Regions from separate parts of the Homo sapiens genome. Here all the other regions are linked to region 1. The links come from fine-mapping of genetic effects on gene expression. A gene starts in region 1. Each other region holds a variant in brackets. All regions are shown on one strand. Distances are between the middles of the regions. Region 1 holds the start of PHLDB3 (pleckstrin homology like domain family B member 3). Region 2 overlaps PHLDB3 (pleckstrin homology like domain family B member 3). Region 3 has its middle 4.8 kb from the start of LYPD3. Region 4 has its middle 8.2 kb from the start of LYPD3.

Evidence for each region. PIP is the estimated chance that this variant, and not a neighbour inherited with it, causes the effect.
Region 2: its variant is the best candidate, but not a certain one, in a credible set for the expression of PHLDB3 in testis (GTEx, PIP 0.67).
Region 3: its variant is the best candidate, but not a certain one, in a credible set for the expression of PHLDB3 in activated naive CD4 T cells (Schmiedel 2018, PIP 0.61).
Region 4: its variant is the best candidate, but not a certain one, in a credible set for the expression of PHLDB3 in anterior cingulate cortex (GTEx, PIP 0.85).

Annotation. Positions count from the first base shown.
Region 1 is chr19:43,502,502-43,506,662 of GRCh38, forward strand. PHLDB3 (pleckstrin homology like domain family B member 3) reads right to left here and starts at 2,245. Exons shown (of 16, transcript NM_198850.4): 1 at 2,088-2,245; 2 at 1,405-1,631. The coding sequence starts at 1,617. RefSeq lists an enhancer at 1,381-1,903 and silencers at 1,532-1,781, 2,382-2,441.
Region 2 is chr19:43,475,899-43,480,059 of GRCh38, forward strand. PHLDB3 (pleckstrin homology like domain family B member 3) reads right to left here. Exons shown (of 16, transcript NM_198850.4): 14 at 3,479-3,695; 15 at 2,149-2,234. Among named protein-coding and RNA genes, the nearest start is that of LYPD3, 12 kb to the left of the region's middle. The variant A/G (reference allele first, on the strand shown) is at 2,417.
Region 3 is chr19:43,468,340-43,472,500 of GRCh38, forward strand. No RefSeq gene overlaps it. Among named protein-coding and RNA genes, the nearest start is that of LYPD3, 4.8 kb to the left of the region's middle. The variant C/CTT (reference allele first, on the strand shown) is at 2,356.
Region 4 is chr19:43,455,288-43,459,448 of GRCh38, forward strand. No RefSeq gene overlaps it. Among named protein-coding and RNA genes, the nearest start is that of LYPD3, 8.2 kb to the right of the region's middle. The variant AG/A (reference allele first, on the strand shown) is at 2,180.

The sequences.
Region 1 (4,161 bases):
GCAGTGGCGCGATTACGGCTCACTGCAGCATCGACCTCCCTCGCTCAAGCGATTCTTCTGCCTCATCCTCCTAGGTAGCTGTGACTACAGGCGCGCACCGCCACGCCAAGCTCTTTTTTTTTTTTTTTTTTTTTGGCAGAGAGGGGGCGATGCTATGTTGCCCAGGCTGGTCTCAAACTCCTAGGCTCAAGGGATTCTCCCACCTCGGCCTCCCAAAGTGCTACGATTACAGGCATAAGCCACCGCGCCCGGCCTCAGACCCCTGTATTTAAGGTCGGAGTGGGGGAGGGTGCAAGTCCCGTGACCACCCAACCACACGGACCACAGAGGCTTGCAGTACCGTATGGAGGGTGAGCAGGTGTAAAGCCGACTTATGAAAGGTGTTTCTTTTTCTCTATCAGGTCCTATTCTCTTGGCGTCACTTTCTTGTAGTGCCTGGATCTGTCTCTGTCTCTCCACCTGACCCCAGTCTCTCAGATTCGGTATCTGTCCACTAGATCTGTCCACTAGAATCACTAGATCTTTCTTCCTCGGAGTATGTCCCTCTCTCGAGGTTTTTGTCTATTTGTTTCTCTGAGCATCTCTGCCATTTATTTCTGGGTTTCCCTCTGTCTCGATTCCCCTCTCTCTGACTCTAGTCTCACTGTGTCTCTGTCTTTTTGGGGTCTTTGTCTCTCAGTCTCCATGTCTCTGGGTCTCTGTCTGGCTTCTTGATCTCTCTGCATCTCTTACTCGTTTGGTTCTCTCTGTTCTGTAGTCTCTCCTGTCTGTCTATCTGGTCTCTCTCTCTCTCTCTCTCTCTCTCTCTCTCTCTCATTTTTAGAGATAGGTTCTGCTTTGTCCCAGGCTGGGGTGCAGTGGCGCAGTCATAGTTCACCGCAGCCTACAACTCCTGGGCTCAAGCGATCCTCCTGCCTCAGCCTCCCGAGTAGCTGGGATTACAGGCACGCGGCACTGCGCTTGGACAATTTTTGTATTTTTTTTTTCTCTAGAGACAGGGATTTGCTATGTTGCCCAGACTTGTCTCGAACTCCTGGGCTTAAGCAATCCTCCCCTCGGCCTCCCCAAGTGCTGGGATTACAGGCGTGAGCCACCTATCTGGTTCCTCTATACTAGTCTCTCTGTCTCTGTCGCCCGTTTGGGTCTATCTCCGTTCTTGGGGCCTCCCCGTGGCTCTATCTGGTTTCTGTCTCTGTATCTGGTTTCTGTCTGTCTGTGCCTCTGCCTCTCTGGCTCCGTGTCCTGGTGTATCTCTCTCTCAGTAGTCTCTGCTATCACTCGGTCTCTCTCCCTGTCTCCGGGTCTCTGTCTTTCTGGTTTCCCTCTACCTGTCTACCTGTCTGGCCACCTGTTTGGGTCCCCGTCGGTCCAAGCCCCCCGCGCTGTCGCCCTCGGGCCCCTCACCGCGTCGCGGCTGCTCTCAGTGCTGCTGCCTTCTCCCACTTCTTCTTCCTCTGCCTGCTGCTCAGCTCCCCCGCGGCTCGAAGGTTCCGCCAGGACTTCGGATGCCTCCTGTTCCCGGGACTCCTCGGGATGGCCCTGGGGCTGGACCTCCACGTCGCATTCCGGGACCAGCGGCGGCGGGGTCCCCTCCTCGGGGCTGCTTCGCGTCCCCATGGCCGCTGGGACTCCTGCGGGGTGGGCGGGACCAGAAGCTCCGGGGGCGGGGCCTAGGACGGCTGAGCGCCGCTCGCGTCTGCTCCGGGGCGCGGAGACCCCCCCCCAAGGAGGCGGGGCCTAAGAGTTCAAAGGATGGAACTGAGCGTTACGGAGGCGTGTCCTGAAGTTTCCAGAGGCGGGGCTTGATGGCTCCAAGGCGACACGCCACCGGAGACGGGACCGGAATTTGAGTCCGGGTCGTAGCACGCCCCCTACTGACCTCTTCGACCCCGCCTCCCCTCCCTCATCTCTAGGTGTCAGGCCTTGTACCCTCCCAGCAGCCCCCTACAATCTCTTGGATTCGCTTAGAGCGACCCATCTTCTCCCTCCGAGACTCAGCAGTTCGGCTCCCGCCCCATCCTTCCCGGAGCCCCGTAGTCTTAGTCCCGACCCCACTGTGCAGGGCAACCGTGCCCACGCCGCCTCACCCAGGGATCCAGGAGTCGGGGCTCTCCTTCTCTGAACAAGCCAGGAGTCGGAGTCCTTGAGATTCCGAAGTCCAACTGCCACCTCCCCACAGCCTCGGCCCCCTCACGAGCTCAGGCTTCGGCGCGCTCCGCTCTGCGCGCTGGGCACGGCCGCTTCTGCCTATGAGACAGGTGGCAGGGGAAGAGGGAGGAGAGAGGCCGCCCGGTCCCCCTCCCCAGCAGCCCGGAAGTGGAGGGGGGACAACAGGTCCAACAGCTCCCGAGGGAGGAGGGAGCCACGGGCTTGCCCCACCCGTGGCCTCGGCATCCGGCCATCCCGGCCCCACCGGCCCCGGCCCGGCCCCACCCTCGTGGAACTCAGCATCGCGACCTCCCAGTCTCCCTCGAGCCCCTCATTCCTGCCCCCCTGGAGGAGTCTTGGCCACCTCTGTATGGGAGCCTCTCTAATGTCCAGACCTTGGGAGTTCAGAAAGGAAGGCAGGAATGGAGATGGGGACGTCTCCCCTCTAATGAGCCCTTCAGAAGGGCCCTGACCGGTTTGGGGAGCTGGACAAGGGGAAGGGGTGCCCTGAACTGAGTCAGACACCTGCCCAGAGACTGAGGGAAGTGTACCGCCACCCCCCCACAACTTTGCTATGGGGTGGAGGGCAGAGGTTAAAGGTCTCAGCCAGACCCTTTCCTCTCTGGGCGAAAACAGGAAAATGAAAACAGGAAAATAACTGGTATATGAAAAGGGATGATTAGAAGTCAAGAGCTGTGTGAAACACTTTATACCCAGTCATTTAATTTCACCCTCAAAGCTGTCCAGCGAGAAAGTGATTACTACCTCCATTTCTTTTTTTTTAGTAGAGACTGGGTTTCTCCAGGTTGCCCAGGCTGATCTTGAACTCCTGGGCTCAAACAACCTGCCTGCCTCAGCCTCCCAAAGTGTTGAGATTACAGGCGTGAGCCACCGCTCCTGGCCTACTATCTCCATTTTACACTTGGGGATACAAGCTGAGGAGGACAAATGCACCCAAGGTTGGCTGGGCACAGAGGCTCAGGCCTGTAATCCCAGCACTTTGGGAAGCCGAGGCAGGTGGATTGCTTGAGATCAGGAGTTCAAGGCCAGCCTGGGCAACATGGAGAAACCCCATCTCTACTAAAAATACAAAAATTATGCCAGGCGTGGTGGCACACACCTGTCATCTCAGCTACTCCAGAGGCTGAGGCAGGAGGATATCTCGAGCCCAGGAGGTCGAGGCTGCAGTGAGTCTTGAATGTGCCACTGCACTCCAGCCTGGGCGACAGAGTAAGACCCCATCTCAGAAAAAAAAAAAAAAATGTAGCCAACATCTACACATGTTGTAAGTGGTAAAATGCAGGCTTCATTCTCTCAAAAGTCCATGTTCTTAACCATTGCGTATACTGTCACTACAAGCCAGGAAGTACCCAAAAGATCATTCTAAATGATAGTAACTTTAATGGTGAACACTGATAGGCCATGTGCCAGGCACTCACACACATTGACTCATCAGAGCATCACAACACCCCATTATTATTCCTTCCATTTTAGAGATAAGAAAACTGAGGCCTAGAGAAGTGAAGTAACTTACCCCAGGGCTAAGTGGGAAGTGGCTCAAAAGCAAGCCGGTGTTCTAATCCAAGGTGATGAGAAGACCTGCCCCAGATAGCTGTGTTTGTTTTTGATCTTGTGAGTTAGAAATCTTGTGGGCTCCCGGGCTGGGCGCGGTGGCTCACACCTGTAATCCCAGCACTTTGGGAGGCCGAGGCTGGTGGATCACGAGGTCAGGAGATCAAGATCATATTGGCTAACATGGTCAAACCCTGTCTCTACTAAAAATATGAAAAAATTAGCCGGGCATGGTGGCACGCGCCTGTAGTCCCAGCTACTTGGGAAGCTGATGCAGGAGAATCGCTTGAACCCGGGAGGCAGAGGTTGCAGTGAGCCGAGATCGTGCCACTGCACTCCAGCCTGGGCAATGGAGGGAGACTCCATCTCAAAAAAAAAAAGAAAAGAAAAAGAAAACAAATCTTGCAGGCTCCCTGGCCTCTCCATAGGACCAGAACCCCA
Region 2 (4,161 bases), 27 kb before region 1:
GATTCTCCTGCCTCAGCCTCCCGAGTAGCTGGGACTACAGGCGTGTGCCACCACGCCCAGCTAATTTTTGTATTTTTAGTACAGACCAGGGTTTCACAGTGTTTGTCAGGATGGTCTCGATCTCTTGACCTCGTGATCCGCCTGCTTCGGCCTCCCAGAGTGCTGGGCTTACAGGCGTGAGCCACTGTGCCAGGCCGAGAAATTTAAAAGTAGGACTTATGACGCCTTCTCTCAGCCTAACTTCTCCTATATTAGAAATACAGGCATTCAAATTCCACCTCCCCAAAATCTAGGTCCCCTTGTACCTGGGAAAAGTTAGTGTCTAGAATCCGTTATTTGAGTACCCACTTGCCAATCCCAAATTGAGTAAATCCCTTATGTCCATAATCTGTTTTTAGCCCTCTCAATAACCCTGATGGAATGGGTTGATGCGTACCCATTCTACACGTGAGAAAACTCAGGCCGGCCGGGCTGGGTGGCTCACGCCTGCAATCCCAGCACTTTGGGAGGTTGAAGCGGATTGATTGCTTGAACTCAGGAGTTCAAGACCAGCCTGGGCAACAGAGGGAGACCCCATCTCTACAAAAAAATACCAGAAAAACAAAACAAAACAAATTAGCTGGGTGTGGTGGCACACACATATAGTCCTAGCTACTCAGGAGGCTGAGGCAGGAGGATTGCTTGAGCCCGAGAGATAGAGGCTGCAGTGAGCTATGATTGTACCACTGCACTCCAGCCTGGTCTATGGAGCAAGAAAAAAAAAAAGAAAAAGAAACAAAGAAAACTAAGGCTAAAGGCTAAAGAAAGGAAGTCACTTTCCTGATGTCACATAGCTGAGATTCCAACCTAATTGCTAAAAAGCCACAGTTTGGTTATTCTCCACAGAGCTTTCTAAATATTGTATCAGTTGCCAACATTTAAATTTTTGGCACTGTGCTTTATACAAGTTCCAATTCCTGAGTTCTCTGGGAAAAAATAAATATAAGACAACACCATGGGACCCACTCCCACTTGGCAACTGTTGGCAGGAGCCAACTAACAACCATCTCCTTTATTTATTTTTCATTTAAAAAATAAAAAAAAAAAAACAGAGATGGGATCTTGCTATGTTGACCATGCTGGTCTCAAACTCCTGGCCTCCTGCAGTCCTCCCATCTTGGTCTCCCAAAATGTTGGGATTATAGGCATGAGCCACGACGCCTGGCAGATCATCTCCTTTAGATGCTCCCAGGCTGCCCGACCCTTGCTGTGACCTCTCCATTCATTTATTCCCAGTTGGACATCAGAGTCTGCCATATTTTGGCTCTAAAACTTTTGCTCCAAGAAAATTAACAGTGACAGGCCAGGTGCGGTGGCTCACGCCTGTAATCCGAGCACTTTGGGGGGCCAAGGTGGGCAGATCATGAGGTCAGGAGTTCGAGACCAGCCTGGCCAACACAGTGACACCCCATCTCAACTAAAAATACAAAAGTTAGCCAGCTGTGGTGGCACGCCTGTAATCCCAACTACTTGGGAGGCTGAGGCAGGAGAATCGCTTGAACCCGGGAGGCAGAGGTTGCAGTGAGCCAAGATGGCGCCACCGCACTCCAGCCTGGGCAACAGAGCCAGACTCCATCTAAAAAAAAAAAAAGAGCCACGTGTGGTGCGGTGGTTCACGCCTGTAATCCCAGAACTTTGAGAGGCTGAGGTGGGCAGATCATGAGGTCAGGAGTTTGAGACCAACCTGGCCAACACAGTGAAACCCCGTCTCTACTAAAAATACAAAAATTAGCCGGGCACGGTGCCTGTAATCCCAGCTACTCAGGAGGCTGAGGCAGGAGAATTGCTTGAACCAGGGAGGCGGAGGTTGCAGTGAGCCGAGATGGCGCCACTGTACTCAGGCCTGGGCGACAGAATGAGACTCTGTCTTAAAAAAAAAAAAAAAGAAGAAAATTAACAGTGGCTGAAGGCCAGAGTCTGGGCTCTTAATTTTTAGTCCCTGCAGTCAGGTGACCTGTTTGTTTTCTCTGCGACAAACACGTACTCCTATGAGTACCCTGACAGGAGAAGCTGCGGGTGGCTTTCCCCAGGATGAGCCAGGGATGAGATAAGGCCTGACTCCAACTGAGTCTCCAACTGGGAGGTCAGGGTGACATTGAGGGGCTTCACCTTGAAGGCACAGCGTAAGTGGTCATAATAGACTTCCTCAATGGCCTGGAAGTAGATGACACCTTTGAGCTTGGTCTCTTCCTTGTCTGGTAGGGGAGGTAAGAGAAAAAGAGAGCCAGTGAGAAAGGTGTGTCTGTGTGTGTCGAGGTGAGGGTCATTGGCCCTAAGTCCTGAGACTGGATTTGGGTAAGAAACATGGTGACAAGAGTCTGAAGGTCTCTAAAGGTTGGGAGGTGAGTGAATGTTAACGCTGGATGGGAGACTGGGC[A/G]CAGAAACTGGACATGATTGGGGAGTGGGGTCTGTGGAGCTGGAATCCTAGGCCCTGAATGCTCGGCCTCTGAGAAGGGAAGGAACTCAGGGAGTGCTCAAGTGCTTTCTAGGTATAATCTCTAACCCTCTCAAACTCTCCTGGAGGGGTAAGTACATTTATCTCCATCTGACAGATGTGGAAACCAAGACTCAGAGAAGTTAAGGCACCCAGCACAAGTCACACAGCCAGAGCTGACAGAGCCAGGACTCACCAAGTAGAGTCAAATGGTCATACAGGTTAGGGAAGAAGGATTTGAGACAATACAAGCGTCCAAGGAGGCTGGGTGCAGTGGCTCAAGCCTGTAATCCCAGCACTTTAGGAGGCTGAGGCAGGCAGATCACAAGGTCAGGAGATCGAGACCATCCTGGCTAACACAGTGAAACCCTGTCTCTACTAAAAATACAAAAAATTAGCCAGGTGTGGTGGCATGAGCCTGTAGTCCCGCCTATTCAGGAGGCTGAGGCAGGAGAATCGCTTGAGCCGGGGAGGTGGAGGTTGCAGTGGGCTGAGATCGCACCACTGCACTCCAGCCTGGGCGACAGAGCAAGACTCTGTCTCCAAAAAACAAAAACAAAAACAAAAACAAAAAAAAGTGTCCAAGGAGAGGTTTGGAATAATTGATTCTCCTAGAGAAGAAGGACAAGGGCCCCAGACTCCTGGCCATTGGGGGGCTGGGGGCAGCTGACAGTGCAGGTTCAGACTCATGGGTGTCTTAGGAACATGGGCCCTGGGAAGCTTGAATTGTACTAAACTGTTATCTATGTCCCTGAGGAGGACTGGGGGTTTGAATTCTGGGTGGCTTAAAGAGGGGCTGGGGATCTGGATTCCAGGGTCTGGAGGAGAGAGAGAGCTGGGAGCCTGGACTCCTGGGTTGTAGGGAAGTTAGGAGCTAGGGAACCAAACTTCTGGATCCTGGGGAACATGGAAAGTGGGGGCCAGGACTTCTGGTGCCTGTAGAGGAAAGGCCTCCGGAGTGGAATTCCAGCGTCCTGGGGCCCATGGTGGCCAGGCTGGGCTTACCCGCATAGTAGGCCAAGCGGCGGGCTTGGCGGTCAAAGCAGAACCATCGCTTCCTCCAGGTCTTGATGCGGCCGCCCATCTTCACCAGGGGTCCACGGCAGCAGCACCCAGACACCTGCACATGTGGGCAGTTTTCCGGGTTGTGGCCCCATCCCTCCAGATGCTGCCGGAGATCCAAGATTCGCGGGCCTGGAGGGTGGGGTGGGGTGGGTGGGGCCTGGGGAGCAAAGAGACGGGGCAGCTGATGTAAGGGGCGGGGGATTCTACAGCCTGGAGCCCCTCGAGGGGAGCAAGTCATAGCAGCTTGCATGTAAGGCCCGCTACAGCCTTTAGAGGGTAATATTAACTAGGACCATCTGACAAATGCAACGGCTACGTGGATTGACTGTGATGCTCTGCCCAGGACTTTATGGACATCAGCTCCTTGGCACTTCATGGCAACTGTGAGCCCCATTTTACAAATGAGCAAAATGAGGTACAGAGAGATGACATAATGCACCCGAGGTCACACAGAGCTTCTAGGCAGCAGAACTGGGACACGAACCCAGGTATTTCTGACCCTAGAGCTCACCCTGAAACATCAGAGGCCTATCAAAAGAAATAAAGATCGGGCCGGGTGTGGTGGCTTATGCCTGTAATCTCAGAACTTTGGGAGGCTGAGGTAGGAGGATCCCTTAGGCCTA
Region 3 (4,161 bases), 34 kb before region 1:
AGCTGGGTGTGGTGGCACACACCTGTAATCCCAGTTCCTGGGGAGTAGGGGCTGAGGCAGGAGAATCGCTGAACCTAGGAGGCAGAGGTTGCAGTGAGCCGAGATTTGCGCCACTGCCCTCCAACCTGGGTGACAGAGCAAGACTTTGACTCAAAAAAAAAAAAAATCAATCCTTTCTAACACCCTTTTACTTAGACACCTCACAGTTACCTCATGGTGTGTTTTCTCCCTCATTGCAAGAAGCAATAAACCCAACTTGTTCAACCACAGGTGTGTCCCTGGTGGAGAACATTGACACAGGCCAGAGCAGATGTACTTAGCCAAGGGTGTCCCAAAGGAAAGGTGAAGAGTGGAAAGATCTAAAATATTTTAGGAGGAAGAACAGGTAGGGATTACTGATGGATCCAATGTGAGGGAAGAGGAAGTGGGAGGTTTCCAAGCTAATTCCAGACAGTTCTTGCCATAAACCACATCATGACATTAATAACAATGGTAACAAAAGTCATAATAACAACAGTGACTGAGTATCAAGTGTTTGTTTCCCAGAAACTGTTTTGAACAGGGGGCATGCATTATCTCATTTAATCCTCACCTGTAAGTATGGTTATTAGCATTTATTAACCACTTACTCTGTGCTTAGCACTTTCTGTGAATCCTCTCTGAATGTCACGACAGCTCTGCAAAGAGAGAACTAAGTCTCATTTCACAGATGGGAAAACTGAGACTGGGAGAGGCTTGGAAGTGGCAGAACTGGGATTTGAATCCAGGGCTGTCTCCAAAGGCCCCCATGCCATTTGCCAAAGTCAGAGCCTGGCTTTAGGCCTGAGATTATATTTTGCAATGACCCTTAGTTTTACAGCCAGACAGGCATGCATTTGAATACCAACTCTGCCCCTAATCTGCTGTGTGACTTGATCAAGTGACTCCAATTCTTTGATGTTCAGAGGCTTCCTGTCTAAACAAAGACTATGACAAAAGCACATGCATTCAGTGCTTCCTCTGTGCCAGGCAACTTTCCACACCCTTTACACACAATCCTATGAGAGATTTCTATGATGGTCAATTTACAAATGGGGAAATCGAGGCAGGCATGGGGGGCTTAACAACTTGCTCAGGGTCACAAAGCTAGGAAGTCACAATGCTAGGAGACAGTATTTGAACTCAGGCAGTCTGGCTTAACTAACAGTACCTATAATTAGGTACATGGGTCCATTGGATATCAGCTGTGAAACTTTGACAATTACTTGGCCCCTGTGTGCCTCAGTGCCCTCATCCTCATCCATAAAATGAGGGTCTTAGTAGTACCCACATCATACTAGGTGCTATACTGCTAGGGCATCAATGTTATATATATGTGAAATACTATACTGCTAGGGCATCAATGTTAAATATATGTGAAATGATTAAAATAGGGTCAAATTCTAGGAGTTATGAAAGCATTAGTTTTTATTACTAATAATAGGTTAAGGGCCAAGCACAGTGGCTGGTGCCTGTAATCCCAGCATTTTGTGGGGGCTGAGGCGGGCAGATCACTTGAGCCCAGGAGTTTGAGACCAGCCTGGGCAACATAGTGAAACCCTATCTCTACAAAAAATACAAAAAGTAGCCAGGTGTGGTGGTGCACACCTGTAGATCCAACTACTCGGGAGGCCGAGGTGGAAGGATCGCATTGAGCCTGGGAGGTCAAGGCTGCAGTAAGTTGTGATCACGTCACTGTACTCCAGCCTGAGTCACAGAGTGAGACCCTGTCTCAATAATAATAATAATAAATAGATTGTTAGTATAACTATTATTATTAACAGCCCTCACTTCTTGAGCTCCAACCGTGTGCCACACAGGGTGGTCAGCTCTTATACAAGCAATCTTGCCTTGAATTCCTAACGAGGGGGTAGAGAGGAAGATCTCCTTCACAGAGGAAGACTCTGAGACCCAGAGAGAGGAAGGTATCTGTTCAAGTTCACACAGCAAGGGAAGCGGCAGAGTCAGATGTCAGACCCGGCTGCAGGGGGCTGGCTCACTGTCTGATGACGAGACAAGCAGCGGTCGTGTTTATAAAGATATTATCTGTTCTCCAGACCCTGTGAGGCACCCCCGTTCCCAACAATGACGAGCACTTCAGTCACCTGGGTGAGGTCACTTGGCATCATGCTGAAGCTGAGAGAGAGAAAGTGAATGACTTCTTGTGAAGTCATTCATTCAGCACTGTCCCCTTCCCCCTCCCTCCGCCCGCCTCCCAGCCTTGGAATCTCAGCCCTGATTCTTGCTTTGCTGTGTGATGCTGCATAAATGCTTTCATCTCTCTGAGCCTCCAAGGTGTCTTTTTTTTTTTTTTTTTTTTTGAGACGGAGTTTCACT[C/CTT]GTTTCCCAGGCTGGAGTGCAAATGGCGCAATCTCAGCTCACTGCAACCTCTGTCTCCCAGGTTCAAGCGATTCTTCTACCTCAGCCTCCCGAGTAGCTGGGATTACAGGCATCCACCACCACACTCAGCAAATTTTTTGTATTTTTAGTAGAGATGGAGTTTCGCCATGTTGGTCAGGCTGGTCTCAAACTCCCAACCTCAGGTGATCTGCCTGCCTCGGCCTCTCAAAGTGCTGGGATTACAGGCGTGAGCCACCATGCCGGGCCCAAAGTGTCTTTTTTATAATAAAAGAAGGACTATCTTTCATTGGTAGGGTAAGGCAGTGGGCAAAATATCAAGTCTGGAAGTGGACAGACACATTTTAATCCTATCTCTGCCACCCTCTTGCTGTGTAACCTCAAGCAACTCCATCTCCCTCTCTGAACTTCCCCTGAAAACCCCTACCTCCTGAAGGATAGAGCGGGGACCCAGTGAGTGACAGGCAGGGTGAGACTAGCATTATTATTGTGTGCTGCTCTGAAGCAGGAGGCCCTGCAGGTCCCAGCTGTGTGGGAGAGTTTCAGGGAGGAACCCCAACTGGCCAGACCAGAAGAACTAGCATCTCGGGAGGGAGTGGGACCCAGGGTGGAGAGGTACCTCTTGCTCAGGCCTGCCCAGATTCTAGGCGCTGACCCCCGCCTGGCCCATGACCAGAGAACAGAAGGAGGTTTGAATGCAGGGCACCACTTAAGCCTGCTGCGTGGTAGGTGGCTGGCTCTTCTGGGTCCTTTGCAGATTTTATGGCAGAGAATCTAGAATCTGGCTCAGGGGTCAGTGCGGAGGCAGCTGCCAGCAATACAGATCACTCCCAGGCCTCAGACAAGCCCAGGACCATATTCACTCTGGATTTCTCGTCTCCCTGTGGCAGACCAGGCTCTGACGCCAGTGAGGTTCCCAGCCTGACTCAGGCCCACTCCCTCTGGGACACACTGTTTGTGACAAGTTAGGGAAGGAGTGGAGTCAGGGATGGGGCTGACTGTATAATTTTCGGGCCCCAGTGCAAAATGAAATTTAGAGACCTGGTTCAAAACGCAGGAAAAGAGGCCGGGCACGGTGGCTCACGCCTGTAATCCCAGCACTTTGGGAGGCCGAGGTGGGAGGATCACCAGAAATTAGGAGTTCGAGACCAGACTGACCAACATGGTGAAACCCCATTTCTACTAAAAATACAAAAAATTAGCCAGGTGTGGTGGCGTGTGCCTGTAATCCTAGCTACTCCAGAGGCTGAGACAGGAGAATCGCTTGAACCCAGGAGGCGGAGGGTGCAGTGAGCTGAGATCGCACCATTGCACTCCAGCCTGGGCAACAAGAGCAAAACTCCATTCTCACCAAAAAAAAAAAAAAAAAAAAAAAAAAACAGGAAAGAGTGCTGTTAAAGGTACTAAAATAGAAACACTTTTTTTTCCTTTCTTCTGCCTCAATCTTTTTTTTTTTTTTTTTTTTGAGACAGTCTCACTCTGCCACCCAGGCTGGCATGCAGCTCACAGCTCACTGCAGCCTCTCTATCTCCCGGACTCAAGCAATCCTCCCACCTCAGCCTCCCAAGTAGCTGCCACTACAGGTGTGTGCCACCATGTCCAGCTAATTTTTAAATTTTTTTTTGTAGAAAAAGGGTCTTGTTATGTTGCCCAGGCTGGTCTCAAACTCCTGGGCTCAAGTGATCTTCCTGTCTCAGCCTCCCAAAATGCTAGGATTACGGGCATGAGGCACTGCACCTGGCCCTCAGCCTTTCTCTTGACCCCTCATGGTGTTTAATGTTATGTTCC
Region 4 (4,161 bases), 47 kb before region 1:
AGGATGGTCTTGAACTCCTGACCTCAGGTGATCCACCCGCCTCGGCCTCCCAAAGTGCTGGGATTACAAGCGTGAACCACTGCACCTAGCTCATTTTATTTTTATAATGCCCATAAAGCATCAAACTGTGTGAGCACACCATCATAAGCATAACCAGTTCCCTCCTGATAAACATTTAGGTTATTCCTAATGTTTTGTTATTCCAAACACTACTGCAATTAACATCCTGGAGCAGACCTGACATCAGCCTCAGGCGTCCATGTCTACATGTGAGATAAATTCCTGAGAGAAAAACCTGCCAAGTCAGAAGCGATCTGCATTTGTCATTTAGAAAGACGTTTCCAAATTGCACCCCAATTTCCCTCCCCTGCAACTGATTGACCAACCATTTCTCAAAAGGGCTTTTTGAGCACTCTCTCTCTCTCTCTCTCTTGCTGTCTCTGTATTTTTTTAATGTTTGACAGCAAGAAGATAGTCATGTCTTGCTTATGTAATTAAAATTAAACAAGCCCTTCGTTAAAAACACACAAACCCAGGAAGAAGAGAAACCAGCAAGGCCAGTTCAGGCAGATCCACCCTGCCCCTTGTCACACCTGCCTTGTCCCCAGCAAGCCCTGAAAAAGAGGCTGAAATCAATTTCTCACACATGGACCTCAGACATCAAACCTTGGAAAAAATACAGGAAAGAGATTTTGTAACTTTCCCCCTCTGTGGCTTTTCGTACGGCTAAACCCTCTCACTCTCTCTTCCCTTTCTTTCTCCTCGTCCTTTTTCTTCTTTCTCTCACTTCTGTTTTGGTGAGCTGTCATTAAAAACACTTTAAAGCCGTGTCCAGTCTAATAAGTTATACAGAATCTGGCTGTGTGTGTGTGTGTGTGTGTGTGTGTGTGTGTGTGTGTCTGTGTGTGAGAGAGAGAGAAAGAGAGAGAGACAGAGTCTCACTCTGTCGCCCAGGCTGGAGTGCAGTGGTACAATCACAGCTCACTGCAGCCTCCGCCTTCCGGGTTCAAGTGATTCTCCTGCCTCAGCCTCCCAAGTAGCTGGGATTGTAGGCGCGCACCACCAAGCCTGGCTGATTTTTTTTTTTTTTTTTTGAGACAGAGTCTCACTCTGTCACCCAAGTTGGAGTGCAATGGCACAATCTTGGCTCACTGCAAGCTCCGCCTCCCAGGTTCAAACGATTCTTCTGCCTCAGCCTCCTGAGTAGCTGGGACTACAGGAGTCCGCCACCACGTCCAGCTAATTTTTGTATTTTTAGTAGAGACAGGGTTTTACCATATTGGCCAGACTGGTCTTGAACTCCTGACCTAAGGTGATCCGCCCGCCTCGACCTCCCAAAGTGCTGGGATTACAGGCGTGAGCCACCATGCCCAGCCGATTTTGTTGCATTTTTAGTAGAGATGGGGTTTCGCCATATTGGCCAGACTGGTCTCGAACTCCTCACCTAAGGTGATCCGCCCGCCTCGACTTCCCAAAGTGCTGTGATTACAGGCGTGAGCCACCATGCCCAGCCGATTTTGTTGCATTTTTAGTAGAGATGGGGTTTCGCCATATTGGCCAGACTGGTCTCAAACTCCTGACTTCAAGAGATCCACCCGCCTCGGCCTCACAAAATGTTGCGATTATGGGTATGAGCCACCACACCTGGCCAGAATCTGGTATTTTTAACAGAAAGCAGAGCTAGGAGCTTAAAAGTAGAAACTAGATGAGCAAAACAATTGATTATATTTGAAACACATTAAGCTCTTCTTTTCTCTTCTCCTCCTGAACACAAGCAAGTAACTGTCTGGAAGGAGGTTGGAGGGGTTGCGGTGGGGGAGCGGGAGTCTCAGGGCCCATAATGGGTTTCAGAGGCCAAGATGGATAAGGAGGTCATCCTCCCAAGAAGATGGGAAGGCTGGACAGTGACAGCTGCAAAAGATTGGTTACTTTCAGGGGGATGGATCCGCTAAGTAAATATATTGCCAGCCTGGCCAACATAGCGAATTCCCATCTCTACTAAAAATACAAAAATTAGCCGGGCGTGGTGGTGTGCACCTGTAGTCCCAGCTACTCGAGAGGCTGAGGCAGGAGAATTGCTTGAACCTGGGAGGCAGAAGTTGCAGTGAGCCAAGATCACGCCACTGCACTCCAGCCTGGGCAACAGAGTGAGACTCCATCTCAAACAACAACAAAAAAA[AG/A]CATTGGAAGCCAGATTTCTTTTTTTTGAGACAGTGTCTTGCTTTGTCACCCAGGCTGGAGTGCAGTGGCACCATCATGGTTCACTGCAACCTCGGCCTCCAGGGTTCAAGCGATCCTCCCACCTCAGCATCCCCAAGTAGCTGGGACTACAGGCACGTGCCACCACACCTGGCTAATTTTTAATGTATTTTTCTTAGAGACGAGGTTGCCCAGGATGGTCTTAAATTCCTGGACTCAAGGGATCCGCCTGCCTCAGCCTCCCAAAATGCTGGGATTACAAGCATGAGCCACCACGCCCAGCTGAGTGGTAGGGATTTTGAGCTGGGGTGAATGGCGATTGTAGGTCATTTGCATTTTTAATCGGCTTTACCCAGAAGAGAAGGCAACTTTCTTCTGTCTTCATGACAGGAGGTATTTTACAACTGAGAGCTGAGTCATGTACCAAAGTTAGGCTCTCACCTTCCTGGGGGGAGATAGGAGTGCTATTTCCTTTTATGTTTACAATTTCAAAAAGATAGTTTCCTGGGTCCTGGTCACTCATCCCTGTAATCCCAGCATTTTGAGAAGCCAAGGCAGGAAGATAGCTTGACCCCAGTTCAAGATCAGCCTGGGCAACATAGTGAGACTCCATTTCCTGGGCTATCAACTGGCAAGATACTTTTTTTTTCTTTTTTTTTTTGTGACAGAGTGTCATTTTGTCGCCCCCAGGCTGAAGTGCAATGGCGTGATCTTGGCTCGCTGCAACCTCCGCCTCCCAGGTTGAAGCGATTCTCATGCCTCAGCCTCCTGAGTAGCTGGGATTACAGGCACTTGCCACCACACCTGGCTAATTTCTGTATTTTTAGTAGAGACGGGGTTTCAACATGTTGGTCAGGCTGGTCTTGAACTCCTGACCTCGTGATCCACCCGCCTTGGCCTCCCAAAGTACTGGGATTACGGGCGTGAGCCACCGCGCCCGGCCAAGACTTTTAAAGAGGTTTATATCCATCTCAAATGGACAAAGAAATAATTTACAATGACAAGTTTTCTCAAGTAAATGCTCTAAGAAAAGGGAGGTAAGGGGCCTCTGTGGTTAGACCCTCTGGATTCTGAGGGCCTAGAGGCAGGAGGAAGCCTGTCTAAAGTTTAGTCAAGCTGAGGGAAACATTATGGCAGTGTTGGTACACTCTGTAAAGCTGACCTGCCCGTGTTCAAATCCGAGCTCCACTGCTTAATAGCTGAGTGACGTGGGGCAAGTTTCTTAACCTCTCTAGCCCTGATTTCCCCATCTTGTAAAATGCAGGTGATTAACACTTACTTCATAGGATGGTTTTGTAGATTAAATATATTAATCCAAGTACAGCACTTAATACAGTACCTGGCACATAATCAATGTATTATTTGCTGTGGGTAATTACTTCATCATTCTGAGCCTCAGTTTCCCCAATCATCCCATCTGAAAATATGTGGAAAAGTCAATGAGATGATGGCTGTAAACTGATAGCATAGACTTGGCATCTAGTAAGACTGTCTTTAATCACTAACACAGCTGGGCACGGTGCCTCACATCTGTAATCCCAGCACTTGAGAGACAGAGGCAGGAGGATCATCTGAGCCCAGGAGTTCGAGACCAGCCTGGGTAACATAGTGAGACGCCAATCTCTACAATACAAATAAAAGTTAAATTAAAATTTAAAAATCTCTGCCGGGCATGGTGACTCACGCCTGTAATCCCAGCACTTTGGGAGGCCAAGGTGGGTGGATCACCTGAGGTCAGGAGTTTGAGACCAGCCTGACCAACATGGAGAAACCCCATCTCTACTAAAAATATAAAATTAGCCAAGCATGGTGGCACATGCCTGTAATCCCAGCTACTCGGGAGGCTGAGGCAGGAGAATCGCTTGAACCTGGGAGGGGAGGTTGTGGCGAGCTGAGATTGTGCCATTGCACTCCAGCCTGGGTAACAAGAGCAAAACTCCATTTCAAAAAAAAAAAAAAAGA